Linked DNA regions of Homo sapiens: regions 2, 3, 4 and 5 are each linked to region 1. Evidence: fine-mapped expression QTL. A gene starts in region 1. Each other region holds a variant in brackets. All regions are shown on one strand. Distances are between the middles of the regions.

What was found. PIP is the estimated chance that this variant, and not a neighbour inherited with it, causes the effect.
Region 2: its variant is fine-mapped to the expression of FOXN3 in whole blood (INTERVAL, PIP 0.92).
Region 3: its variant is fine-mapped to the expression of FOXN3 in whole blood (TOPMed, PIP above 0.99).
Region 4: its variant is fine-mapped to the expression of FOXN3 in whole blood (TOPMed, PIP above 0.99).
Region 5: its variant is fine-mapped to the expression of FOXN3 in whole blood (INTERVAL, PIP 0.97).

What each region holds. Positions count from the first base shown.
Region 1 is chr14:89,414,034-89,419,921 of GRCh38, forward strand. It overlaps FOXN3 (forkhead box N3), which reads right to left and starts at 3,200. Exons shown (of 6, transcript NM_005197.4): 1 at 2,838-3,200. FOXN3-AS1 (FOXN3 antisense RNA 1) reads left to right here and starts at 3,321. Exons shown (of 2, transcript NR_036500.1): 1 at 3,321-3,763; 2 at 5,127-5,760. RefSeq lists enhancers at 2,052-2,346, 2,361-2,894, 2,895-3,427, 3,052-3,346 and silencers at 3,042-3,251, 3,292-3,581.
Region 2 is chr14:89,565,048-89,570,935 of GRCh38, forward strand. It overlaps a transcript of FOXN3 not described here. Among named protein-coding and RNA genes, the nearest start is that of FOXN3-AS2, 8.2 kb to the right of the region's middle. The variant G/A (reference allele first, on the strand shown) is at 3,581.
Region 3 is chr14:89,355,384-89,361,271 of GRCh38, forward strand. All of the region lies in intron 2 of FOXN3 (forkhead box N3), which reads right to left. The region is part of intron 1 of FOXN3-AS3 (FOXN3 antisense RNA 3); the gene reads left to right. Among named protein-coding and RNA genes, the nearest start is that of FOXN3-AS3, 8.0 kb to the left of the region's middle. The variant G/A (reference allele first, on the strand shown) is at 2,802.
Region 4 is chr14:89,361,893-89,367,780 of GRCh38, forward strand. The region is part of intron 2 of FOXN3 (forkhead box N3); the gene reads right to left. It overlaps FOXN3-AS3 (FOXN3 antisense RNA 3), which reads left to right. Exons shown (of 2, transcript NR_188029.1): 2 at 2,502-3,116. Among named protein-coding and RNA genes, the nearest start is that of FOXN3-AS3, 15 kb to the left of the region's middle. RefSeq lists an enhancer at 3,573-3,622. The variant C/T (reference allele first, on the strand shown) is at 3,179.
Region 5 is chr14:89,341,881-89,347,768 of GRCh38, forward strand. The region is part of intron 3 of FOXN3 (forkhead box N3); the gene reads right to left. Among named protein-coding and RNA genes, the nearest start is that of FOXN3-AS3, 5.5 kb to the right of the region's middle. The variant G/A (reference allele first, on the strand shown) is at 3,062.

The DNA of each region.
Region 1 (5,888 bases):
GCCAGGCATGGTAGCTCATGCTTATAATCCCATCACTTTGGGAGTCTGAGGCAGGAGGATCCCTTGAGCTCAGAAGTTCAAGACCAGCCTGGCCAACATGGTAAAACGCCATCTCCACCAAAAAAATACAAAAATTCGCTAGGTGTGGTGGTGTGTGCCTGTAGTCCCAGCTACTTGGGAGGCTGAGGTGGGAGGATCACTTGAGCCCAGGAGGTTGAGGCTCACTGCACTCCAGCCTGGGCAACAGAGGGAGACCCTGTCTCAAAAAAATAAATAAATAAAATTAAAAAGGCAAAGACATGACCCTTCTATGTCTCTTAAATGTTCATTAACACCACATCTAAAACAACTGCCACTTCAGCTGTGGAAGCTCTATTAGGGAATTCTAGAAGGCATAATCCTGGGCACTAACCTACCAGCCAAGGGTGCCTGTGAATTATAGTACCTTCCCTCTTCCAAAAGGTAGAACCTGCTAGACGCAAGGCCTAAGGGGGAGCTGTGGTGAGAGGCCCAACCGGTTTTTTTTTTTTTTTTTTTTGAGACAGAGTCTCACTCTGTTGCCCAGGCTGGAGTGCAGTGGTGCAAAATCCGCTCACTGCAACCCCTGCCTCCCAGGTTCAAGAGATTCTCCTGCCTCAGCCTCCCAAGTAGCTGGGACTACAGGCGTGTGCCACCATGACTGGTTAATTTTTGTATTTTTAGTAAGACGGGGTTTCACCATGTTGGCCAGGATGGTCTCAATCTCTTGATCTCGTGATCCACCCGCCTCGGCCTCCCAAAGTGCTGGGATTACAGGCGTGAGCCACCGCGCCTGGCCAAGATGCCCAACTCTTAAGGAGAGAAAACTTCATGAGGCATTGCAGTACAGACCAGGCAGGATGCTCCAGACGTCTTGGGTTCACTCACAGGGAATATTTCTTTCTGTCAAATAAGGAGGTTACCCTGACACATTTCAGACAAAAAACAAGCTAGCATCTTTTGGCTTGGGGATACAACAGAGTCTGGTCTGATCCTGCTTTTAACTTCTTTATGAACGAATTATAGCACCACTTGTCTTTCTTAAAGTTTCCTCAGATCCCATCAGAAAATTTTCTGATGACCAGCATATGCCCACAGTAGAGTATAAAACAGAACTACCCAGCCACTGAAGTCAACTTTAGCTCTAAATGAAAGTTTTATGTCTCCTGAGCTTCCAAACAGGAAAATTATATCATGGCTGACAGTAAAGTAATTTAATTGCACTGTTGCTATGACAACATGCTGCTCTCTTTCTTTTTAATTTGCTTATTTGTCAGTAGCTTCCCAGAGGAACTAACACGCTATTCTCCATGTTTCCTTTTGTTTTAAACAAACACTGCCAGCAATATGGTTTTAGGAGAAAAAGTGGCATTGTCACGAAGAGAGGGTTATGGGAGTTCAGTACCCTTGGATCATGTGTGCGTTTTGTGCTGGGACCCCGTACTCTCCAACCACTCACTGCATCCCTATAAATCCCGCATTTTATACCAACAGGGTGAAGAGCTGCTGATCACTACAGTTCCATGTAAAAACAAAACAAAACAACAATAACCAAAAAAAAAAAAAAAAAAAAAAAAAAACAGTTCCCAGAAACCACAGCTGAGGAGTTTTCCATTATTATACTCTAACTACAGATTTCGCCAAATCTTTTTTTCCTCCTGTTTCAGAGGGAAAAAAAAAGAATCTGGATCATGTGAGTTGCAGTTAAGCAAACATTTTTAATCTGCTGCCAACAAGGCTGCTCCACCAGATACGCAAATAGTTATTCACTGGTGACCTCCTTACAACTTTTCTCTACACACACACACACACACACACACACACACACACACCCTCTTTTGTTTTTTTTATGACTTGCTGTGTTTTGTTACCCTCTTTATTTTTTAACGGAGAAAATGCGGCAAGAAAGCTTAGTTTCTCGCCTAGTAAACAGAAGGTCTCCAAATAACTGACAAAGACATTACTGGCCCAGCTCTGAACAGATGTTCGATGCGAACTTTAAAAAGTTAAGAAATCTTCCCAGAGCCGAGCAGTAGCGAGTTTGGGGGGCCGGGTCACCCCCGCCCACCCAGCACGCGCGCGCGCGCACGCACGCGCTTCACTCTCGTCTACTGTACTTGTCAAAAACATTTCAAGGGGACCTGCGGGAGTGGCGATTGGCTGCACCCCGCGTCAATCAGCGGCGTTGCCGGGCAACGGGGGAAACTGCTCTTATCCCCATATACAGGGCAATTGGGAGCTCGCATACCTTCACTGCCGGTCAGATGTCATAAACCTTTTATTGGCCGCACCGCGGCGAGCCTCGAAAACAAATCAATAAAAGCCCGCCGTCCCCCAACTTATCCAGGGCCCAAGGAGGGTTTCAAACAGGGCCGGGATGAGGGGGGTCGGGCCTCGGGGGTCTCCGGAGACGTTCGTTGCCTGTGCCAAGTCTGCACAGTTTGGCCGGGGGGTGATCTTTGTTAGGAGCCTGTTTCTCATCTTGGGGTCTCCACTTGATCGGAACCCCCTCCCCGGCCCGGAACGGCGGGGACCCCGTCCTCCGCAGACAATACCAACTCTGTTCCTTGCGGGCGTCTTTTCGGAAACCGAGGCACCGGGAAGCAGCACGCACGTCGGGGCAGGAAACTCTTCGGACCCGGCAACTTCCCGGCTCGGGGGCTCCCGGGGTCCACACCCGACCCTCCCCCCAGGACCTGCGGGGTCCCTCGTCTTCCCAGAGCGGCGAGGTAGTCTCCAGGACCGTCTCGGACGCGCCTCCCGCCCCGGGTGCCCCCCGAGCCCACGCGGGAGCCGGCAGGAGCGGGGTGCAAACTCACCTGGCCGGAGCGGGGCACGGGGGTGCGGGGGCGCCGCTGCCCTTCAGCAGGAGCCGACAAACTTTCGCGGGCGCCCGGCGGGCATCGCTCGGTGGCCCCGCTAAGGACGCGCGGGCGCGGCGCGGCGAGCCCGGGGCGGCGGGCGGCGGGGGGCGGCCGCGGGCGCGGGCGGCAGGGGCGCGGGGGTCGCGGCGCGGCATGGGACCTGCGGCGTCCGCCGGGCGCGCCGCGCGTCCTCCCGCCGGCCCCGCCGCTCTCCCCGCCCCGTCCCGCCTCCCGCTCGCCTCCGCCGCGGCGCGTCGGGCCGGGGCGCGCCGAGCGGCGAGAAATTGTTTCCACTGCAAACAAAAAAAGGCGACACATGACCAGGCAGGAGGAGGGGAAGCGCGGGGAGGGAGGAGGGCGGAGGGAGGGACAGAGCGGAGGGCGGAGGGAGCCGGAGAAAGGGAAAACGTGGGCCTGGCCGCCAGCGGCCTGGGGCGCGGGGCACTGACCCGCCGGGGCGGACCCTGCCCGCGCCCCTCGCGCGCCCCAGCACTCAGCCAGGGCGGAGGCCGGGGCTGGGCCGCGCGGCCTCGCCTCTTGGGCCCCGCGGGGCGGGGGTGACCGGCGCGGGTCCCGCGACCCAGGGCGGCCGCGACCGTGGGCGGTGGGGCAGGTGGGTCAGGCGGCGCGTGCCCTGTCCCCTCCCCGGGCTCCGGCCACACGAGCGGGCCGGCGCTGCGCTGCTGGCAACGTGTCGCGGGAACGCTCCTACCCCATCTGCATGCCTTACATGGCTCGAAAGTAAAAATAAAAAGAATTACGATGCGGGCGAGGCTTGTGGGGGTGAGAAGAGGAGATTCCACGTCTCCCCAGTGCTGCGTCCTGATAGGACCCCCAGGGCCTTCCGAGCCCTCTCCCAGCGACCACCTCGTGTCCCGGAGGTAAGCACCGCAGCGTCCCACCCAGGTGGCCGCGTGTCTCCCGAGGGAGGGCCGGTGGCCATTACAAGACAAGAGGCACCGTCCTAAAGGCCACGCCGGTGGGGCCTCTCAAGTGGGTTGTGCGGAACGCCCCGGCCGGCCTAGAGAGAAAACAGGTCTCATTTCCATCTCAGTTTGAGCTCTCAGGAACCAGACTGACAATTCGCAAGCCACCCAGCGAAATGGTGCAGCCACCACTCTAAGTCTCTAGGCACCTCCAAATAATAGCACCCACTGCTAAAGCCACACCAACCAGCCGCCTTGGGAGAGGATGAGAGGAGAGAGTCCAACAGGACACCCTGGTGGTGACAAAAATAAAAATGTGATTGCACATTACTCCCAGGTAGCCAAATTGGTTGGTTCCTCTACAGAGGAGAAGCCCAGGGCACCCTTCCTGCCACCCCCTCCTGAGCCAGTGGACAGGACATCGTGAGCGGTCTGAAAACTACAGAAAAAAACAGCGAGTAGACCTGGAGAAAGCTTTCTAGCATGCAGTACTTTTAAACCTAGCCAAAAGGAGGGACTAAGGGAAACACCAGTTAGGCTTCTGAAAATTTTTTCTGTCTCAAAAAATAGACCCCCCCCCCCCAATCTGAGAGTCATTCCCCCTAACAAAGGTTCAAGAGGGCAGGTGACAAGTCTTCAGCAAAGATGTGCCTTTCAGACTCACCGGAGACCTTACTACTTCCAAGTTGTGTGGCATCTCCCCATCTGGAGACAATTAGGAGGTGGAAGCCCAGGGGTAGCCTGAGGTCATCCAGCCCCACCCCTTTGATTACTGAGCACTTGATGCGACCTACCCAAAGTCACTAAGCAAAAGGCACAAGGTGGCAGAGACAAGTCAGATGATCTTTGAAGTCTCACGCCAGAGATTCTCAGGGTTAGAAGTGGTAACAAAGCCAGGATGAGACAATGTGTACCCTGCTTTCCTGTAGCTCCGGCTAATGCAGGTCCTGCCCCTCCATCAGCGCGTCAGTTGAGGGTGCTTATTCTCCGCCAGAGGAACCAAGGCCAGAGACCTTTGTCCAAGCCCTTGCTGGCCTAGAGAGGACGAAGTCGCCCCCTTACATCTTCCTCTTCCATCCCCAGCCCCCAACCCCACCCCCAAGTCCCCCAGCTACACTCACACAATAGCCAGAAATCTCTTTATATTAAGTAGAGGTGGCACCTTATTTTCACCGGCCCCAGTCCCCTCCTGCTTTCTCAGAGTTCAAAAAGAGGGGATGTGAGCCAAAGGTGATTGTACATGGAATATGTCATTCCATGTGTGTTTTTGCTTCTTGCATTCTCAAACATATTTCTTAATTTCTCTCTCCCATTACAGTTGCAGCAAGAGATGTGAGAAGGTGTCACCCTGAAGAGGAAGTGGTGGACCAGCCCTGCCTGATGTGGACAGCAGGGGACACATGTCTGCCTGTCGGTCTATCTGAAATGGGGGAAAAAATGCTGAAAGCCAAAGGAGGGCTTAATGTGGCCTTTTCCACCTTCTAATTCCATAGAACCTCAGCTCTGGGACTTGCTTCCTGACCTAGGGTGCAGGGGCCAAATTTGTTTGGGAACAACCCCATTCACAATTCCCCATGAACTTTCAGAAAGGACCCTTGCGTCTTAGGTCCTGAGAAGTCACAAATAAGCAAGCTGCATTGTCTAATGTCTTGTCTACACTGTTTTACAAACACATTTAACAGCCGAATTGTATATGTGCCCTAGAAATCACTTTGAGAAACACTTATTTCCTGATAGAGGACTTGATGGGACCATTCTGCAGCCCCATCTGAGCATGGGCTGGAGAGTACATAAGTATCTGGGAGCTGGAAGTCCTCAATTCCAGGCTTATCTGCCCCCATCAGCGTGGGACCTCAGTTCCTCCTCCAAGGAGAAGAGCGCCCCTCCCTTGATGTTTTGTGCATTCTTTTGCTAAATGTTTCTCTGGTCAAGAACTTTAATCCCCCTACACACACACTGTATTGGTTATTAGAGCAGCATGGCTATTTATGGAATAGTTAAGTATAAAACCCGATATACCTTGCCCCCCTTGAGGCAGTACAACTGAGTAGGTGAGCAGGTGCAGTCGGGAAGACCTGAG
Region 2 (5,888 bases), 150 kb after region 1:
AGCACCCCTGCACTCCAGCCTGGATGACAGAAGGAGAGCTCGTCTCAAAAAAAAAAAAAAAAAAAAAAAAAGGAGAAGAGATACCAACAGAGAGACACAAGGAGAACACCCCGTGATGATGGAGGCAGAGACTGGGGTTATGCTACCCCAGGCCAAGGAACGCCCAGAATTGCTAGCAACACCAGAAGCCAAGAGAAGGGCATGGAACAGATCCCCTCCTGGAGCCTTCAGGCTGCACAGCCCCGCCAACACCTTGATTTTGACTTCTTGCTTCCAGAACTTGTGAGGGAGTAAGTTTCTGTTGCTTTCCCACCCAGTTTGTGGCACTTTTGTTATGGCAACCCAGAGAAACAAATCCACTGGCTTCATGTCCACTTTTAAGAGGTAGGACAGAAAAGAAAAAACACAGACTCACCCAGGACCTGGGAGACATGATCGAGTTCCAGGCTCCCTTCTGCAATCCCTGCCCAGGTGAAGCTCTCTGGGCCCGCCGTCCTCATCTTTGACATGAAGTGTTTGGGCTGGACGAGGCCTAAGGCCATTTTTAGCTTTAAAGCTCTAGGATTCTATCACATCATAGCCAAAATAGGCATTTGGTCTCATATCTACCAAAGGGGAGATGAAAAAAAGGAAACCACTTTCAAACTCCAGAACCCTATGCCCACAAGTAGAAGTCAAGGAGAAAGTGGAAAGAAAGAGTAATTAGTGGTGGTGGTTGCATTTGCCATATGCCACATAATCATTCCATCTTCACGTCAGATCTGGCCTGCAGCCCTCATGCCACAGCAACTTAACACAAAGAGATGCTGGGAGCTGCCAAACGCAGAAAATTAATACAAGGGATGCAAGGAGAATCTCTGCAACTACATTTTATTTCTCTAACCTGCTAGTGTCAAGGTCATTTCGCCCCGGAAATATAAAACCTGCTGTGTAGCGAAGGGGTAAAAGAAAGAAAAGAAATCCTGGCAGTTAAGCTGTCCCTGTGACCCTCGCCCCAGAATATCACTTACTTTTCATCTCACATAATTCCTGGCCGGTGGGCTCCTCGGAACTGCTAGAAACTGACAATTAGTAAAACAAATCCCACGAGTAAAGACCAACAAGAAATTCCTGTAAAAACCTCACCCATACACACTGTACTATTTTACCTTTTTTTCAAAAGTAAATTGTGGCTGTCAAATGACACCCTTTCATTACTGTCACTGACTCTTTTAAGAACGGCTAATCAGAAAAGCCTACAGAGGTATTTAATCAGATTTTTTTTTTCTTCAAATGACCTAATGTTTTGGTATAAAACTGCTGCCAGCTCACGCTGGGTAGAAATTTAGCATTGTCAGCATTTAATTATTATTTTATCACGGATTTCTTTACTTTCCTACAGGGAAGAAATAATTTTTTTAAAAAAAAATGCAGCAAGTGCTTAGCTTTTAAAATCACAAGACGCTTGCTTCATTATTGTGCTTTGTCAAAAATTACTAGCTCAGGACATGGGACATATCACGGAAATGCACTTTAGGTTAATAAGTGGTACTGCCATCACTGGCTTCAGTCTTCCAGGACATGGAAAACTGGGAAGTGAAAATTATGTTCATTGTGTTGGTTTTCGGGAAATGAGATTATTCTAGACTCATTCACATTTGTGTGTCATAGCAGCTACATATTCTCCTACCCCTAGGACACCTGGGTGAAGCCTGTGGCTTTACCATTCCCTCCTCCTCCTCCTCCTCCTCCTCCTTTCACTCCATCTTCCTTCTTCTCCACCTCCTCATCCCCTACTCCCTTCCTCCTCCTCCTCCTCCACCTCCTCTTACTCTCACCCCCCTCCTCTTCCTTACCCTCCTTCCCCTACCCCCTCCTTCTCCCCTCTTCCTCCTCCTCCCTTGCCTTTTTTCCTCTAAGGTGGGAATAAGAGAGTGGGGAGGAGAAAAGGAGGAAAAATGGAAAGAGAAAGAAAAGACAGGTGTGTATCTGTGACCTCTAGCCAACTGACCCAAGGCTACAAGTATATGGCTAATAATGGTGGCACAAGGACCAGACATCCAGGTGCGTTCCCTAAAACTACTCTTTCATTTTTTCCTCATCATTCAGCTAAAATCTCTTTTTAGAAAATTACCTGTTTCATCATCACCACCACAAAACCCTTCATCTGCCTCTCTTCCCCTTTAACCAGTTCCTTTTTCCTTGCTTTAGAGTCAAGCTCTGAATAAGCTGGAAATGTTTGGTGCAGACAAGTCAGCAACAATTCTTTCTTGAGCATCTACTGCAAGCAGATAATTGTGCTCACTTCTGAGGGTAGGATGGGGTATAAACCTAGGTATGAAGTAGTCCTAAGGCAAGACTGTAAAAGGTACAGAGCGATACTAAGGGAAGACTGTACTAGGTACAAAGTGGTACTAAGGGAAGACTGTACTAGGTACAAAGTGGCACTAAGGGAAGACTGTACTAGGTACAAAGTGGCACTAAGGGAAGACTGTAAAAGGTACAGAGCGATACTAAGGGAAGACTGTACTAGGTACAAAGTGGCACTAAGGGAAGACTGTACTAGGTACAAAGTGGTACCAAGGGAAGATTATTTATTGGCACATGATACAATTAATGAGTGGCAAGGACAAGGAAGGTTACAGTTACCTATTAGCTTCAAAGGTGTTTTGTGCCACCAAACAAATCTCGTTGATTTTTTTTTTTTTTTTTTTTAGACAGAGTCTCGCTCTGTCTCCCAGGCTGGAGTGCAGTGGCGCGATCTCGGGTCACTGCAAGCTCTGCCTCCCGGGTTCACGCCATTCTCCTACCTCAGCCTCCAGAGTAGCTGGGATTACAGGTGCCCGCCACTACGCCTGGCTAATTTTTTGTACATTTAGTAGAGACGGGGTTTCACCGTGTTAGCCAGGATGGTCTTGATCTCCTGACCTCGTGATCCACCCGCCTCGGCCTCCCAAAGTGCTAGGATTACAGGCATGAGCCATCGCGCCCGGCCAAATCTCGTTGATTTCAAAGAGAACTTGAGACTTCTCCCCAAAACCTATCCTCCCCTAAAACCTATCCTCTCGCTGCCCCCCCAAATTTCTCCCATCTTAGTAATTGTCACCTCCTAAATGTCAGCATCTGAGGACTTTGTTTCCCTCCCCGCTTCCATTCTAATGCACTAGAAAGTTCTCTACATCTTCACCACTTCTGTACTTCACTTTAGTCCAGGGACTTCGCTCACCTGGTCTCCGTGACTGCACTGCTGCCCACCTATGAACCATCCTGCATGAAACAGCAGAAGGGATGCTCTGAATAGAAACCTGACCATGCCACTCTCATGCTTGAAACTGGCCGATGTTTTCCCATGAGAGCTAGAATAAACCTAACCTCCTCCCTGCCCCTGACCACCTCCCCGCACATCCATGCCACACTCTCCCTCACAGTCGCTCCTTCCACAAGCCCCAGGGTCTTTGCACAGGCTCTGCCCTCAGCACGGAAGCCCTTTCCACCATGTGCACAGTGAACTCCTTCGGGATTTTTAGGACTCTTTGTAAATGTCAGCTCCTCAGGGCTGGCCCCTAACATTTGCGTCCTTTCTTGCTTCTTATCACAATTT[G/A]CAATTGTTCCACTTGTCTGTTTACTTGCTAATTATACAGAAATTCCTTGCTGGCAAGGGCCCCCTCTGGTCTTCTTATTCCATAACCCAACAACTAGCATAATGTTTGGCACAAATGAGAAATTCAGTATTTTTCACAATGAATAAATAAAATGCTTATTTATTTCCCAAAAAAAGTCTATGTGACAGGAGGAAGCTCCTAAATGTATTTACACATGGTTTGGATCATGGATGGTTTGGCCCTTTCTTAGATAAACTTCAAGTTGAGTTATGATTATGTTTAAAAGGCGCCATTGGCCGGGCACGGTGGCTCACGCCTGTAATCCCAGCACTTTGGGAGGCCAAGGCGGGCAGATCACGAGGTCAGGAGATCGAGACCAACCCGGCTAACACGGTGAAACCCCATCTCTACTAAAAATACAAAAATATTAGCCGGGCGTGGTGGCGGGTGCCTATAGTCCCAGCTACTCTGGAGGCTGAGGCAGGAGAATGGCGTGAACCTGGGAGGTGGAGCTTGCAGTGAGCCAAGATCGCACCACTGCACTCTAGCCTGGGGGACAGAGCGAGACTCCGTCTCAAAGAAAAAGAAAGGTGCCATTTCCATTATCCTACCCAGACTACCCACTGACAGCAGAAGGGCAAAATGCATGGAGGGTGGGGGTGGGTGCCCATCTAAGAGTCAGGGAAAGTAGTATTTAATACGTAGGTAGTGGAAAGTGACCTTGGGTGAGCAGTGGGCTGTAACAAGTCCTCCCAGTAAGATTTCAGCCCAGCTCTGCTGAGCTGCAGCTGTGGCCTGCCTTCTATTTCCACCTCCTAAAGGAAATGCTGCTTCCTCCATGAGGCGGCTGTGTGATCACACTGAGCACTGTATACTGAACCAACTTAAAATGTATGGCTACTTTGGAGGTCTACCTGGACACACCACTGACATAGATAATCAACCTCAAAGAAAACTTCATGCCACCAGAAAATCTTGATCATGACAAATTAATCCAACATATATTTGTTGAGGCCAGACATTGTTCTAGGCAATGGAGAATAATAGTTAAAATGAAAAACTAGTTGCTGCCTTTAAGGGACTTACAGACCAGAGTGAGAGGAGTCATCTATACAACATCTATACATCTGTGGCCTCAGATCCGTGCCTGCCAAAGGGCACCATCATCATACCTGATGGGGAGCCATCAGGTGTTGCTCTTGGCCATCACCCTGACTCCTCTTACCACCCAGGGAGCTATCCACAAGGAACAAGGGCCTAAAAGGAAACTCAATTTAACTTTCTCAAGAGCTGAGTCCAGTGCAGAGCTCCGGCAAGGCTTACTTACTCACCTGGCCACAGGGAAGACAGGAAACACGTGGAGTCACTTGGTATGTTTTTTTTTTTTTTTGAGACGGAGTCTCACTCTGTCGCTCAGGCTGGAGTGCAGTGGCGCAATCTCGGCTCACTGCAATCTCCGCCTCCCAGGTTCAAGCGATTCTCCTGCCCCAGCCTCCGAGTAGCTGGAACTACAGGTGCATGCCACCACGCCCGGCTAATTTTTTGTATTTTTAGTAGAGACAAGGTTTCACCATGTTAGCCAGGATGGTCTCAATCCCCTGACCTCGTGATCCGCCTGCCTCAGCCTCCCAAAGCGCTGGGATTACAGGCGTGAACCACCGCATCCAGCCGGTACACTTGGTAATTTTTAAGGCACAGTAATCTTGCACATCATTGCTTGTGGCCCATTTCAAGTTCTATAATTTGGCATATCAGTCTCACAGCTGCTCCACCCAAGCAGTGTGGAGGGCAGTTGAAGGGTGGAGCCGAAAACATGGTGTCCCTTGCAGCAAACCTCATGATGCATTAAGAAGCTCTCCCATTTTACAGATGAAAAAACGGGAAAATGAAGGGATTGGATTGCTAAGGCCATAAAGCCATGGAATAGCTGAGTAGGATGGAAAACCAAGCTTGTCCAACCCACGGCCTGCCAATGGCATGCGGCTCAGGACGGCTTTGAATGCAGCCCAACACACATTTGTAAACTCTCTTGAAACATTATGAGTTTTTTGCAATTTTGGTTTTTTTTTTTTAGCTCATTAGCTATCATTACTGTTAGTGTATTTTATGTGTAGCTCAAGACAATTCTTCTTCAAATGTGGCTCAGGGAAGCCAAAAGATTGGACACCCCTGATCTAAACCCAGGTCTTTGGACCTCAAGTTCAGTTGTCTACCTTTGCCTTCAGACTAACCATGGTAGCGATGCCCCATGTAGGAAGTGGATTTTACAACAAATCCATAACCACTGTCAGCAAATAAAAGTAACCA
Region 3 (5,888 bases), 59 kb before region 1:
TGCCCGACTATTTTCTTTTTTTTTTGTATTTTTAGTAGAGACGGGGTTTCGCCATATTGGCCAGGCTGGTCTCGAACTCCTGACCTCAGGTGATCCGTCTGCCTTGGCCTCCCAAAGTGCTGGAAATACAGGCATGAGCCACTACGCCCAGCCTATACTTTAAACATTGTTATTCAAACCGTGGGCCAGATACATTCATGGGTCATGAAATGAACGGAATGGATCATAAGCAGCACTGTTTTAATGGAACAGAATGTAACAAACTAGAACCAAATAGAATGGACTACCATATATCTGCAGTAACATATAGTGAAATTTGTATTTGCATAGTTGTGTATATACATGTTTACTGATCACCAAGTAACATACACTTCTTACTGGGAAGCCGGGTCAACAAAGTTTGGTATCCACTGATCTAGGACAGTAGTGTCTGGTTGTGTTTTTTCCCCCTTCTCACCACTTGTGAGGAAGAAAGCCCCCTATTAGCAACAGTGGGGGACTTACACGTGGCTCTGGGGCAGTGCCTAAAGAACGGGGATAAGGAGGCAGGCCCCATGTCAAAGTGGAGCAGGCACCACCTCTGCCCAGGCCTGTTCTGCCCTGGCCAGGGAGGGATAGCCTGTAACAATTTCAGTTTGTGCAGAACATTCAGGTATGAAAAGAAAAAAAAAGAAAAAAGAAAAAAGGACCAAAAAAAAAAAAGTATGATTTTTAGACTTTAAAATTAAGACAGGCCAGGCATGGTGGCTCACACCTGTAATCCCAGCACTTTGGGAGGCCGAGGTGGACAGATCACCTGAGGTCAGGAGTTCAAGACCAGCCTGGCCAACATGATAAAACCCCATCTCTACAAAAATACAAAAATTAGCCAGGCATGATGGAGGGTGCCTGTAATCCCAGCTACTTGGGAGGCTGAGGCGGGAGAATCACTTGAACCCTGGAGGCGGAGGTTGCAGTGAGCCAAAATCGTGCCATTGCACTCCAGCCTGGGCGGCAGAGCGAGACTCGATCTCAAAAAAATATATAATAATAATAATTAAATTAAATTAAATTAAAACAACACAGAAAGTTTACATTTTATAACAACCTTATTATGCAGATGATATTTACACTTCAGAAATATTTAAGACAATTGTAACCCTGTAAAGCTGATGAGATATTAAAACAAGACAAAAACTGAAAACGAAATGGAGTGGGGAGCTGGGTGTGTGTTGGTGATCTTGAAACAATAGCTTTTGATGTTTCTGACACACCATTTTGGAGGGTGCTTCTAACACTACCCACCTTCATTCATTCCTTCATTCATACGCTCATGCATTCATTCATTCATTCCTGTGGTGCCTACTACATGCCAGGCACCATGAAGGGTCCACTTGTGAATACAAAACAATACAAAAAGGAGACCGACCTCCTGAAGCTTGGATTATAGATGGGAAAAAACACAGTAAGTAAAGAAATAAATAAGCAAGATTATGACAGACTGTAATACCTGCTAGGAAGGAAACAGAATAAGCCATGAGTTAGAAGAAAGGAAGTTGCTGCTGTGTGAGAAATAAATGGGCTGGAAGTGGCAAGAGCACCTGCAGAGAACTGATATGACGGTCCAGGACCAAGATGACCATGGGTGTTGGTTCAGGTGGGCAGCAATGAGACGGAGAAAGGAGGACAGCTCCCGAATGTACTCTGAGGCCAGTTAGCGGCTCACACCTGTAATCCCAGCACTTTAGGAGGCCAAGGCAGAAGGACAGCATGAGTCCGGGAGTCTGAGACCAGCCTGGGCAATACAGTGAGACCCCATGTCTACAAAAAATACAAATAAAAATTAGCTAGACTGCTGCTTGAGCCCAGGAGTTGAGGTTACAGTGAGCTATGATTGTGCCACTGCACCCCAACCTGGGCAACAGAGCAAGACCCTGTCTCTTTCTTAAAAAAAGGAGATAGAGCAGGGCGTGGTGGCTCACGCCTGTAATCCCAACACTTCAGGAGGCTGAAGCGGGTGGATCATCTGAGGTCAGGAGTTCAAGACCAGCCTGGCCAACATGGTGAGACACCATCTCAACTAAAAATACAAAAAATTAGCCGGGCACGGTGGCATGCACCTGTAATCCCAGCTACTTGGGAGCCTGAGGCAAGAGAATCGCTTCAACCTGGGAGGCGAAGGTTGCGGTGAGCCGAGATCGTGCCACTGCACTCCAGCCTGGGAAACAAGAGTGAAACTCCATCTCAAAAAAAAAAAAGAGAGAGAGAGAGAGCTAGAAACCTGATAAACAGCAGTTGACACTGGCAATGCAGATCAAGTAGGAGAAGTAATTGATATTCAGTAATGGTGTGGGATCATTTGATTTTCCATATGAAAAAATATGTATATAAACATATACTAACTGGGTTTGTGTACATATACTTTGTGATGTTCTCATGATGATGCAATTGCCTAACGACGTATTTCTCAAAACTTATTCTCGCTATTATGCAACGCGCGACTGTATCTGGAGGAATGGACTGCATAAGCCACCTCTCTCCCCTCTGCTATACCCTCATTGACCCCAACCTTTCTAGCAGAAGCTCATAAATGTCATGGTAGGCCTGAGATTGTCTGGCTTTAGAGGTTTAACATCAACTGGTTCCTCTGTAATAGGGGTTAGTAAACTTTTCTTAAACAACTTCTCTTTCTGTTACCAGGTCCTCTAATGCATGGCCAGGTCCAACGGCTTCTCAAAGTACATTCTATAGTCTCTGTAGGTCACATGGTCTCTGTTGCAACAACCCAACTCTGCCATCATAGCACAAAAGCAACCATCAAT[G/A]TAAACAGATAAACGTGGCTGGGCTTCAGTAAGACCTTATTTGCAAAAACATTATCCATAGTTCACTGCCCACTGCCCTACAGCTCCAATACTGGTACCCAGGACTGAGACTCACAACTCCCAGTTTTAGGAAACTTAAAAACCAGAGAAGGAGTTTTCAGGGTTAAGGGATTTGGGCTGGGTCCTGTGGGATGGGTGGGGTGTGGATGATGGCCTAAGTCAAGTGCTCCAAGGTCGAAAAGGAAGACCCCCATTGGGGGATACAGACACGGACTAGAGTAAGTTACCCCATCCGTAATAAGAACACATACCTGGTTGGGCTGCACCTACCATCACTGCCTTGAGTAATCATGGCATACATGCAGCTCACTCCCCACCCCGGGTCTTAGTTTCCTCATCTATAAATTAGGTGCTGAGATGAAATCATCCCAAAGGCCCATCATTCTATGCTTTGGGAACGTGTGATTACAGATTAATTAGAATACATGGGTCCTCATGTCTCCAACTCCTTCACAGTTTCAACACAGCCAGCTTTCTGTTCTAGGCCAGTACCACCCATGTGTGGGGTCAGTGAGAAACACATTATTGTGCTTTCAAAGGGGAGCCCTTACTTGGCTGACATGGACATTGGAGTCAGACAGACCCGAGTCTGAGTCTTGTTTCAATTTCTCAGCTGTGTGGACTTGGGCAAAATACATAACTGCTCTGAGCTTCAAATTTTTCATCCATAAAATGGGAGTGAATTAATAATACCTGCTTCACAAGATTGTTGTGAGGATTAAAGGAGATAATATTGTGCTTGCTTGGCACATGGTAACAGTTCAATAAATATCAGCTCTCGGGCCAGGTGCAGTGGTTCACACCTATAATCCCAGCACTTTGGAAGGCAGAGGATCACCTGAGGAGTTTGAGACCAGCCTAGTCAACATGGTGAAACCTGTCTCTGCTAAAAATACAAAAAATTAGCTGGGCATGGTGACAGGTGCCTATAATCCCAGCTACTTGGGAGGCTGAGGCAGGAGAATCGCTTGAACCCAGGAGGTGGAGGTTGCAGTGAGCCGAGATCACGCCACTGCACTCCAGCCTGGGCAACAGAGCGAGACTCCATCTCAAAATAAAATTAAAAAAAAAAAAAATCAGCTCTTGTTATTATGATGGCAACAAAATATTAAATAGCCAGCTTTCCTTGACACTGAGCTCCAAACCATTCAGTGCCTGCCTGATGGAATAGGTACTTGTCAAATTGTGAAATCATGCAGATTTCATCTAAAAAAATTGCACATGACTATTTGTTTTCCATAGTCTGATGTTAATTTCCTTGGTCCAAAAGAAGCGTTTTGTCTCAGATGCACTAAGATAGAGGTGGAAATGGAAGGATCGAAATAGAACAAAGCAAAGAGCCAGCCACTGGAGTAGTGCCAAGAAGGACATGGGACTTTGAGAAAGCTACTTGCTTTGAGTCATGTCTTCGTGCACACTGAGAGATGCTCCGGCCGGTATGGCAGTCCAGGGCTTCCTAGAGAGGTCCTGCCCCAAAGGGCTTACCACCTGCCACCTCCTTCCTTAAGGAGGAGAGGCCCTGACCCCGATACTGCAAGGGAGCAGGACAGGGCAACAGCCTGACTTAGAGAATAAAGCTGGAGTGGGCAGAGGTGGATAAGAGAAGGGTCTCCCTGGCTGGGGCAGCTGGGCCTCTGAGGCCACTGTTCTCTCACGGATCCTTGAGCTCATGGTGGGAACTGGAGCGGATATGGTCCACTTCCTCATCACCAAAAGATACTTGTAACTTTATAGAGAGGTGGCCTAGAGTTGGTACTCCTCATCAAGCTGTCATTCTGTCCAGCATATGCCACGGTCTCCCAGGATCTGGCAGGCTTGAAGGCTTCTCCTGGAAACGGCCTAGGTTTATTTCACTATGAGTGCCCAGTTAATTCCCCGGGGCCCCTGCACACTGGCCTTGCGTTTCTGCCCCCACTGCACAAAATGCCCTCCCCTCCCGCCAAAACTGCCTCCTCCTCTGGACCTGGCTCTGGCTCAACTCCTCAGGGCCCAGCTGCCCCTAAAGGAGGAAGGAGAGAGGGAAAGAGGGAGGGATGAGAGAGGAAGAGAGAGGGATGGAGAGAGAGAGGGGAAGAAAGAGAAGGAAAGAAAGAGGGAGAAAGAGAAAGGGAGGGAGGGAGGGAGGGAGAAAGGGAAAGGGAGGGAGGGAGGCAGGAAGACAGGGAGAGAGGTAAAAAGAGAGGGAGGAAGGGAGGAGGGAAAGGATGAGAGGGAGAGGGAGGGAAGGAGAAAGAGGGGAAGGAAAGAGGAAGGGAGGGAAAAACGGTGAGAGAGAGAAGGAAAAAAAGGGACACAGAGGGAGTGACGGAAGGAGGTGAGGAGAGAGAGAGAGAGAAGAAGAAAGGGAGAGAGGGAGGGAAGGAGGGAAGGAGGGAAGGAAGGAAGGCTGGGGCAAGAGCTGATACCCTCACAGCCGCAGGTTCCCCCATGTTTCCACAAAACTCATCCTCAGCTACCACCACCTCCAGCACTACCTCCACCACCACCACCTCCAGCACCACCTCCACCACCACCTCCACCACTACCACCTCCACCACCACCTCCACCACCACCACCTCCAGCACCACCTCCACCACCACCTCCACCACTACCACCTCCAGCACCACCTCCACCACCACCTCCACCACCACCTCCACCACCACCTCCACCACCACCACCTCCACCACCACCACCTCCAGCACCACCTCCACCACCACCACCTCCACCACCACCACCTCCAGCACCACCTCCACCACTACCACCTCCAGCACCACCTCCACCACCACCTCCACCACCACCTCCACCACCACCTCCACCACCACCACCTCCAGCACTACCTCCAGCACCACCTCCACCACCACCACCTCCAGCACCACCACCACCACCACCTCCACCACTACCACCTCCAGCACCACCTCCACCACCACCACCTCCAGCACTACCTCCAGCACCACCTCCACCACCACCACCTCCAGCACCACCACCACCACCTCCACCACCACCACCTCCACCACCACCACCTCCAGCACCACCTCCACCACCACCACC
Region 4 (5,888 bases), 52 kb before region 1:
CACCTCCACCACTACCACCTCCAGCACCACCACCTCCAGCACCACCTCCACCACTACCACCTCCAGCACCACCTCCACCACCACCTCCACCACTACCACCTCCAGCACCACCTCCACCACCACCTCCACCACTACCACCTCCAGCACCACCACCTCCACCACCACCTCCACCACTACCACCTCCAGCACCACCTCCACCACTACCACCTCCAGCACCACCTCCACCACCACCTCCACCACTACCACCTCCAGCACCACCTCCACCACCACCACCTCCAGCACCACCTCCACCACCACCTCCACCACTACCACCTCCAGCACCACCACCTCCAGCACCACCTCCACCACCACCACCTCCAGCACCACCACCACCTCCTCCTCCTCCACCACCACCACCTCCACCACCACCACCACCACCTCCAGCACCACCTCTACCACCACCACCTCCAGCACCACCACCACCTCCTCCTCCTCCTCCACCACCACCTCCACCACCACCACCTCCAGCACCACCACCACCTCCTCCTCCTCCACCACCACCACCACCACCTCCAGCACCAGCTCCACCACCTCCTCCTCCACCACCACCACCACCACCACCACCATCTCCACCACCACCACCACCATCTCTACGACCACCACCACCACCATCTCCACCACCACCTCCACCACCACCACCACCACCATCTCTACGACCACCACCACCACCACCATCTCTACGACCACCACCACCTCCACCACCATCTCCACCACCACCACCACCATCTCCACCACCACCTCCACCACCATCTCCACCACCACCACCACCACCACCACCACCACCACCATCTCCACCACCACCTCCACCACCATCTCCACCACCACCACCACCACCACCACCACCACCACCACCACCACCATCTCCACCACCACCTCCACCACCACCACCACCAGGCCAGAATGCAGACTTCAGTGGGTCACAAACCCATTCAAACTTCCGTGGGCCTAACGAAAGGTGGATCGTTGGGCCTGATTTTGAAGCAGGTCCCTGAACACCGCTTGTAAAGAGCTAACAGCACAGGAGTTGGGCAGGGCCCTGTGACACAAAGGCAGGGTCCGTTTCCTTAAGGTGGGGAACCTCTAGAGGAACACAAACAAGAAGTGATTACAAAGGATTACACAAGCTGGCCAATGGGCTGCCAGACAACAGAGGACAAAAGAGATGAGCCCTGGGGGAGGAAGGGGTTAAAACTGCAGGCGTGCACACACATGTGCACCAGCTCCTCCTGGGGCCTCACATCCCTGCTCAGGAAGCCCCTCCAGCTCCCACCTGGGCTATCCCCACAGTAACACCCCCACATCCCCAGCCTCTTAGAGGCTGGGTTCTTGTCACCATACCTCCTCTGGCCTTCCCACCAAACCCCTGCATGGGGTCCAAGTTCCCAGGGTCATGTGTCTCTTTCAAGATCATGAGAGACAAATACTACAAACTAACCCATGACTATGTGCCCATGAGGGGCCACAGGCAATGCCAGGACTTTCCCAGAGAACATTCTGGAAAGAATCCCCACATGTAGCTCCCAACAAGGGGATCAAGTGGTATGGTTCTTGTCTACACTGCTAACTTGCTGTGTTACTGGATGGACAAACCACTTGTCCTCTTAGCTTCACAATCTCTTCATCTGTATATTGGCAAAAATACCATCTTCTCCAAAAGTCATTTTGGGCTTAAATGGGATGATGACGTATACAATATACCTAACACCATACTCAGCATGGGAAAGGCAGTTAATCCACTTAATTCTCCTCTCTGTCAAGGGACGTCACAGTAGAAGTTAGGTGGTACTAGCAGAAGAACAAACAGAACAGAGCCAAGTTATTCACCATGAACTTACAGCCTCTGCTTCAAAATATGTAAGGAAGGAAGGCCAGGTGCAGTGGCTCATGCCTGGTCACAGGACTTTTGGGAGGCTGAGATGGGAGGACTGCTTGAGCCTAGGAGGTCAAGGCTGCAGTGAGCTATGATCGAGCCACTGTACTCCAGCCTGGGTAACTGAGCAAGACCCTGTCTGTAAAATATATATATATATATATATATATATATATATATATATATAATATATATATATATTCTTCCATATCAAAATGTTTAGCAAGTGACTGATTCCTGAAGGCCCTTCATTTTCTAAAATTCTATCATTTACAGTCTAACGACATTGGGGAAATGTTTACACTTCAAAAATTTAAAAAGAAAACCAGCCAAGTACATAAAAGAGGGAAGAAGAGAGGCAAAAAGAACAAAACTGATTACAAAGAATTTTTTTCTAGATACCTTATTGTCTATTCCCATAACAAGATCGACAATTACTCCAGCAGTTTAGATTAAAAAAGAAAAAAAAAAGATTGCTGTAATAACTGAGAGAAAGTTTCAGTTTTATGTCCAACCTTGCTCTCTAATAGTTTCTTTTTGTTTGTTTTTTTGTTTTGTTTTTGTTTTTGTTTTTGTTTTTGTTTTTTTTCAGAAGGAAAGATGGAAAAGAGAAGTTATCATTTCTTTCTCAAGATCCTGGCCCCATGAGCCTCAGTGTAGCCCTAGTTCCTGGGATCAGCACCAACAGGCAGGGAGGAGAGGCTCTGGCGCCCTGCAGACAGCACCAGGTTCTTGGCATCAGGAGCTGGATACAGAGTCCCTGATAATCCCAGCCACAGAATATTTCAAACTCACCGACATGTCCTCTAAATATCAGATATGAAAAGGCTTCCACTCTTGCACCTGTCTTGCTATTATTTTACAGATGTGTTCTAAAAGCTATAAAGACGGAAATCACTATTAGTGTGTCACTTATGTGATATTCAGACACCTGAGCTCTGTGATGATTTTAATGCCCCACAGGTCTTTCAGAAATCCACCTCATATACCTCAGAACGCCCCTCCATCTGCAAGGGAACGCATGTGGAACAGGTGGAGAAGGAATTCTTTTAGGCCCATGGGTAGAATTGTAAGGACTCTTGTAAATGCTTCTTCTGTAGTAGAGAAGCTGGACGGTATGTGTGTGTGCTTATGCGTGTTTGAATGGACGCAGGAAAAATCAATAATCTGCTTGCATCAACACCTAAATAAAACCAAAATAATCCCATGATTTGCCTAAAACCAAATTAATCTCTAGGAAAAGCCTGCTGTGACAGAGTTGTGTGGGGG[C/T]GGGAATTACAAAAGAAACGCAGAATTTCCCCGAGCTTCCGCTTTGCAGGAATCTCTGTTCCGTTACTCACTATTTTGAGAGAGCCCTGCTTCTTCCTCCTTCTCCCCACCACACGTCAATGTCATTTTCACAGGGGGGAGGCTACAGGAAGCACACATCTGCAGTGTGTCACCTCCCGAGGCTGACAGATCTACTCAGTATTTGTTTGGGTTGAAAATAGTTATTTTTTTGTACTCTCTACACTATTGTTTCCCAAGTGCCAAAAGCAGTCAAGAGCTAGCACGCTAACAACGATCAATCATAAAATGATCATGAAAACATCCAAATTATATTGACTTTGAAATACTGTCAAACTCTACACTGCTAAGTTCTAATAAAGAAAAGGAAACAGAAACACACCCCTCATACTCCAAGTCAGAAGGCCAAAGAGGTGGCATCTTTAAAATCACTATCTAGCTAAATCGGTTTTATCCAACTAAATCTTAGGATCCTCCCAAATTAGTTTTACCACTCTGTCTTGGGAGGGCCTTTAGCAAATAAGGGTTTAACTCTTCTTCTCCATCTGAAACCTCATCGCATGACATAGGCTGACTAAAAAGGGTAGAGGCACAGAAGCATTTAAAAAAACTTCAAACACATGCAAAACACACAGGAAGCTAAAAAGCGGATCGTTTTATATACTTCTAATAGCTGCCATGCTATGCCACTTCAAAGAGTCAAACTATTACTCAAATGAACTCAATATATTATGTGGCATGAAGCCATAAACTCTCACGTACACACAAAGTACACATGGAGAGATTTTAAAATTTAACATGAAAGTTAAATAATTATTACAGAGAAACATAAAGTAACTAGAATAACTAACATAAAGTTATTCTGTAATAACTTTATTATAGGCCGAGCCCAGTGGCTCACGACTGTAATCCCAGCACTTTGGGAGGCCGAGGCGGGTGGATCACGAGGTCAGGAGATTGAGACCATCCTGGCTAACATGGTGAAACCCCGTCTCTACTGAAAAATACAAAAAAATTAGCCTGGTGTGGTGGCGGATGCCTGTAGTCCCAGCTACTCGGGAGGCTGAGGCAGGAGAATGGCATGAACCCGGGAGGCGGAGTTTGCAGTGAGCCGAGATTGCACCACTGCACTCCAGCCTGGGCGACAGAGCGAGACTCCGTCTCAAAAAAAGAAAAAAAAAAAAACTTTATTATAGAAAAAAACATGCACATTTGAAAAGTTTTGTCTCCTGATAGGAAACAGGAATGTACAATGATGTGGTAAACTTGTCTGGAACGTGGGCATGTTCCTCTTTTTTTCTAACAGTTGTTTGTATCACACCCACAATCTTAAAGTCGAAATTGCATAAGCAAATTACAAAGAGGATAAATGGTAAAGTAAAAGACATACATTAAATTGCCCTCTTCGTGCCTTTTTTAAAAAAAAGTTTGAAAGGCAAGCTGACAGTGCTAGTAGGGATGAGGGGAAATAAAATTCACCACTCATTGCATTTACATAAATAATGTGTTTAAATACATAAATATTCATTTTTAAAGCTCAAGGCCTAGTAAAAGAATTTCTAAGCATATTGAATGAAGTGGAGGGGGCAGCTGACAGCCAGCTCTGACTTCAGGCTGCAACTGGGCGCGCACTCCTTCCAGTACCTCCACTTTCTTTAAGGTGATTTCCATGCTGCACACAGTAACAAACGAGTCAGGTTTTATGGACGGCAATAAAGGTAACGTGGGCCTGACACATGGATGCCCTTGGTTGGATTACAACTGGCCCACCTACTGCCACTTTATCTTCTGGTTGTCCGTAGTTACTCATCTATTTTTAAATGTTCCAATGTGATCTTATCAAATTGGCACATAATTTGATCACCATATTTCCATAACTGGAAGTTGTTCAAAGTACCTGGCCAGGTAACAGTGACAGGGTGTGTGTACTAAGCCAGAGAGCTTCAGTTATGATTTTTTTATTTTAATAAATAATCATGAGCCCTTCTCTCTCAGTGAAACACAGACACTGGGTTGTTTGGTGTTTGTTCTTGCGGAGTGGCCATTGGCCACGAGATCACCAGTCACCCATCTTCCCTAATTTTCAACAGGGAACTTTCCTGGGAGTTCCTGGGTTGTGAGCCTGGCTTTTAGCCACAGCATCCGGCCAACCAACACATCCACTTTTAAGGAGACACTGCCTCTACAGTGCCTCTCAATTCTAGAACAAGCACTCACTCCAACCATGAAGCAGATCCCTTTCAACAAAGGGTGTCTAACACCGACTGCACCCTGATGTGGCGGCACCCGGCTCCAAAGATAAATCCGAAACCATCTCCGACCCACATGTGAGAAGCTGCAGGGACCAAATAACATTGTCAGTGTTATCGATTCCTCCAGCGTTCTTGTCAGCGCTGGGTAAGATATGGACAAAGCACCCGGGAACCAGAGGATATGCCCGAGGTTGCCAGGGAGAGGACAGGGGTGCCAGGGAAAACTGCAGGTAAGAGGCTGCCAGACCAGTGCTCCAGCGGGAACACAGGGTCAGGGAGACAGAACGGGGGTTGGACGCAGGGGATAAATTCACACTGTGATTCACGGGTAGGGGGATGGAGGAAAAAATTAAACAAACAGAATCTACCCAGAAAGACCAACTGACCTGGCCCCTGGGAACAGTGGCAGCAACCACGTGGAAAAGGCACTGATGCCTGAG
Region 5 (5,888 bases), 72 kb before region 1:
GCCTAAGGCGTCGCTGTGCTCAGGAATCCTTGGCTGGCTATCCCGAGAAGTAAATACTCACCAAGCAAATCTGCAAAGACTCCAGGCACCTACTAGGCCCATCAACACTGCAACTTTCTTCTCATGAGGTATTGGAAACACAGAGTTTCTTTGGTATCCATCATCTCAGGAGTTAGGTCAATGGAAATTTATCTGTAGTAGACTTAAAGAACTTCTAACGCTTTGGCTATTAAAATACAAACCAGGGACTGAGGGCACCCCAGGAGGTCAGAAGATAAAAAGGTAACTCGGAGTGGTTCTCTCAGTCACGAGTTTGACTCAGTACCTGAGTAAAATAGATATAATCAGCCCAGCTACTTAAACATTCAACTTTCAAAGTGAGTGTGAAAACAGAATGAAATTGGATGACTGGGCATAATATTCATGAGCTACCCCTGATACAAAGTGCTCAAAGATAACAGGGACTGTTTTCCATTTAAATAAAACAACACAGGATTGACTCAGAATTAAACGTATAATGAACAGCATACCGAAGGCAAAATGCTGAGAACAAAATTATTCTATGAGACCAACTCAGGAAATATAATGGAAGTCAAAAGACAACATGATTTGATATGAAAATAAAATTATAGCCAACTAATGGATTTTTAAAGCTCCCACTGTCAATGAGCACTGTGTTTTTTAAAGAGTGTGCCCTTACAATTTAAGCCTTTCCTATTCTTCATCCCCTCCAATTTTTTAACAAAATATAATGTATATTTGGAAGTGCTACCACTTTGAAAGCCCCGGTATTCAATCCCACATCTACTTTACTGCATTAATTTACCACACTCTCCTACCTGTTTAGCACCATGAAGCTTCATATTGATTTTTTTAAATTTAATATTCTTTCAAAAATTACTCCCAGCAAAAAGTGCTGTTTAAACATAATCTTTCAAAATGCATAATGCCTCACGCTTTTAAATTAAACTTATCCAAATAAGTGTATTGAATATGAGGGGCATTTAAAAAACTATTTCGGGTTTCCATCAAATATGTTGCTTTCAAGTAAATATATTTGTAATAATGAAGCAACTAATCGAAATCCTTGCAATCTTTCTTTATGCTTGACTGAATTAACACTTGCAATGACACCACAATCTAACAATTAAAGTCCTTCAATGTAAGTTAAAACTGATTTCATTGTGGCTTTGCAGTGCTTCTGCCAACTATTAAACGCACAACACTCTGAATAACTAGAATGAAAGATGTCTTATAAATTAAAAAATTATTGGATCCTATCCAAGCAATGAATAAGCTATTCCTTGCTGTGTGCAAATTCAGCATTCTGAGTGGAGGAATTAACACCGTTATGTTAACAAGATTAACATTTTAAGGATTTTCTAATCTTCTAATTGTCTAAAAGGATGAGTTCCCTAAACACCTCAGTACCTTCCCCACCTCCTCCCAATGCAATTCCCCTATCTACTATTCCCAGCCTCACTATGACAGCCAAAGATTATTTACCTGGTGAACAATGACTGATAACTTTGTTAATTTGAATATACAGTGACCACTCTGTACAATTTCTATACCCTTAGCAGTATTACTCTATGAAGACATTTAAATTAAAAAAAAAAAAGGACATCAATAGGGCAGCAGGCAGGATAATAGAACTTGCTGAGTCAGCACTAAAATCTGCCATTTTCATTAAGAACCTCAATATCAGAAAGGCCAAAATCTTTGGAGAGGCCATTAATGTGTGTGGTTTTTTTTTTTTTTCTTTTTTGCGGCTCGTTAAATTCCTCTGAGGAAGCAAACAGAAACAGCTAAAAGGAGAAGCTTAAATGTCTGGAATTTATTCCAAAAAAAAAAAAAAGATGAGAGTAAAAGAAACTTTATTTTGGTTGGTTTGTTTGTTTTGAGACAGTCTCACTCTGTTGCCCAGGGTGGAGTGCAATGGTGCAATCTCGGCTCACTGCAACCTCCACCTCCCAGGTTCAAGCAATTCTCCTGCCTTAGCCTCCCGAGTAGCTGATTGCAGGTGCCTGCCACCACACCCAGCTAATTTTTGTATTTTTTGGTAGAGATGGGGTTTCACCACGTTGGCCAGGCTGGTCTTGAACTCCTGACCTCAAGTGATCCACCCACCTTGGCCTCCCAAAGTGCTGGGATTACAGGCGTGAGCCACCGCATCGAGCCGAGAAACTTTCTTGAAATGTTCTAACTCTGCAAATTTTATAGTCATCCAAAAAATAAATCTTTAGACCTAGATCAGCAAATGAGTCTTGTGGATTTTTCTAACTTTGTACATGTTAAGCCACAATACTTTACATGAAATATAGACTATGATGTCATTATTTTTACATTGAAAATTTTAAAGCAAAAAAAGGGAAAGCTCATTAAAGAAAAAAAAAAAAAAACCATCTCACTCAGTTTCTGACCATCTAACACCCAATCATGGTCAATCCATCATGGAGGCCAAAGGTACGTAGGATGCTGGGATTTCTTTGGAATTACCAAGGAAACACAAAACAACGCTGGCTCTGAAAACCAATCATCCAGGAAACTCTCCATAAACCATACTGTTTGATTAAATGCAAAACCTGTTCTCCAACCATGGTGAGAGAGGATTAAAATGTTTTTCTGGAAACTGACTTTGGATTGGTGCCTATAGCAGAGAAGGTATTACATAAGACCCATATATATGTCACTCTCTAAAAACAATCTGTTGTCATAAACATTATTATGGGGAGAGCTGCTGTTTATAGGGTGTTAATGTAGTGTTACGAAGTTTAAATACCCCCACTATAAGTACCAAAATCACAAAGTCAAGGTCACCCATTGAGGAACTGTCTTTTCATTTAACTGTCAGACATTGAGAAAGGTTAGAAAAATAGAAATTTCCTAAAAAGTTGGTGGGAATGTGGACTAGAACCGAGTGTAAAATCAGAAGGCAATTTGGCAATGTCTACTGGAAACATTAAAATACGCATATTCTTTAATGAGAAATGACGTATCTAGGAAGGAGGGGCACAGGCAACATAAAGATTAGAACAGCTCAGTGGACTTTTCCGAAGAG[G/A]TACGGGCAAGCAACCCAAACACACCACCCCTCCTTCCACTTTCCAGATCTAGATTCCGAAGGCCCCACGCCAGAGTCTCCTTGGCAAAGGTGTAGATTCCCCAAGCAAGCTGGCGTGGCTCGGTGTGCATGAGTAGCCCGAGCTCAGCCACGGGTACTCTACAAAGCACAGTGGAGTGCCATTTCACAAAACTAACGTTCCAAGAACTGTAGTATCCAAACTACAAAGAGACCCCTCGTGTGGCTCAGCAGATCTTCCAGAGAATGAGGCAAAAGCAAGAGCCCTTCACAATCAGCTCTTCACTAAAGTAGGTCAGGCAACTCTCAGTGCTGCAGTGATTTTACTTTTCATTCTACCAAAAACAATCGGGATATCTAAAATTGATCAATGAGTCTGCATTTTGGAGACTGCTTTAAAAAAAAAAAAAAGGAAAGAGAAGTTACAAAGATAGCACAGAAAGCTCCTGCATACCCCTCACTTAGTTTTCCCTGATGTTAACACCATATATTACTAATAAGGCACTTGTCACAACACTGGTATACTACTATTTTTTTATTTCAATAGTTTTTGGGGTACAGATGGTTTTGGGTTACATGGATAAATTCTTTAGTGGTGATTTCGGAGATTTTAGTGCACTTGTCACCCCATAGATAGTCTTTTATCCTTAATCCCCCTCCCAACCTTCCCCCTACTCCCCTCCGAGTCCCCAAAGTCCATTATATCATTCTCATGCCTTTCCTTCCTCACAGTTTAGCACCCACTTATAAGTGAGAACATACGTTTTCCATTGGTTTTCCATTCCTGAGTTACTTCACTTAGAATAACGGCCTCCAGGCCGGGCACAGTGGCTCACGCCTGTAATCCCACTTAGGGAGACCGAGGTGGTGGATCACAAGGTCAGGAGTTCAAGACCAGCCTGGCCAAGATGGTGAAACCCCGTCTCTACTAAAAACCACAAAAATTAGCAGGGCTTCATGGTAGGTGCCTGTAATCCCAGCTACTCGGGAGGCTGAAGCAGGAGAATCACTTGAACCTGAGCGGCAGAGATCGCAGTGAGCCGAGATCGCGGCACTGCACTCCAGCCTGGCGACAGAGTGAGACCCTGTCTCAAAAAATAAAAGAAAAGAATAATGGCCTCCAGCTGCATTTAAATTGCTGCAAAAGACATTATTTTGTTCCTTTTTATGGCTGAGTAGTATTCCATGGTGTATATATACCACATTTTCCTTATCTACTCATAGGTTGATGGGCATTTAGGTTGGTTCCATATCTTTGCAGCAGCAAATTGTGCTGCTATAAACATGCAGCATACTACTATTACTATTAACTAAACTGCACAGTTAATTCATATTTTGCACATTTTCCCCTAATGTCCTTTTTCTGTTCCAGGATCCCATCCAGGACATCATAGGACACATTTGCTCATCATGTCTTCTTAGTCTCCTCTGGTCTGTAATAGATTCTAAGACTTTCCCTGTTTCTGATGACCTTGGGGCTTTGAGGAGTGAGGATCAAGTTATTTTTGTAGAATGTCCCTGCTGAAGGACAAAATCATTGTTTGATGTTTTTCCCATGACTAGACAGGGGTTATGAGTTTGGGGAGAAAGACCACAAAGCTGAAGTGCCAAATTTATGATGTCCTACGAGAGGTACCCGGTATCAACATCACATCACTGAGGATGGTACTTTCATCACCTGTGGCATACTGTTCACCAGGTTTGTCCACTCCAAACTCCCTTTTCCAACCTTTTCCATGCTCTCATCTTTAGAAGTAGGTCATTAAGTGCAGCCATTCCAGGAGTGGAGAGTTCCGTCCCACCTCTTTCAGTGGAGAAAGAGCTACATCAAGCATTTGGAACCCTCTGAATGGGAATTGTGTCTCTTCTCTCATTTATTTGTTTGTTTATTTATTCAATCATTTATTTCTATCAGTCTGGACTCATAGGTATTTATTTTATATTTCCAGTTATAATCCAACACTATGTTATTTATTTTGCTGCTCATCACCGTCCCAGCTTTGGCTACTAGGAGCAACTTCAGGCGAATCCCTTTGACACCCCTGCCCCCCACCCCACCATTTTGTTCTTTAAATATTTCCTTACTTTCTGCTTCTCCATATATTCATCAGCAAAATGTCTCCCTTAAGAAAAGGGTTGCTATGGGGTGATTTATGCCTCCCCAAAATTCCTACATTGAAGATCTAGCCCCCAGTACATCTGAACATGACCTTATTTGGGAACAGGGCCATTGAAAATGTAATTAGTTAAATAGGATGAATTATTACGGGAGAAAGATGGGCCTCTAAGCCAATACGACCAGTGTGTCCTTACAAGAAGGGAAAATTTGGACATAGACACCACATGGAGAAAACGAATGCCAAGTGAAGGTGAAGGCAGAAATCAGAGTGATGTTTCGACAGGCCAAGGAAGGCCAAAAGCATTCCAGCAAAATGCCAGTAAACCACCAGAAGCTAGGAGAGAGGGGTGGAACAGACCCTCCCTCACAGCCCACAGAAGGAACCAACCCTGCCGACACATTGGTCTCGGACTTCCAGCCTCCAGAACCTTGAGACAGTAAGTTTCTGTTGTTTAAGTCACTTGGTTTGAAGTACTCCACGCTGAGCTCTGCACTTCGATTAAAAACAATTCACAAATTTGGTATCAACAAAGCAGGTGTGGAAGAACATCCTAACATACATTCAAAAGGGCACTTTAGAAAACAGAGGCATGGGCCGGGCGCGGTGGCTCACGCCTGTAATCCCAGCACTTTGGGAGGCCGAGGCGGGCGGATCATGAGTTCAAGAGATTGAGACCAGCCTGGCCAACA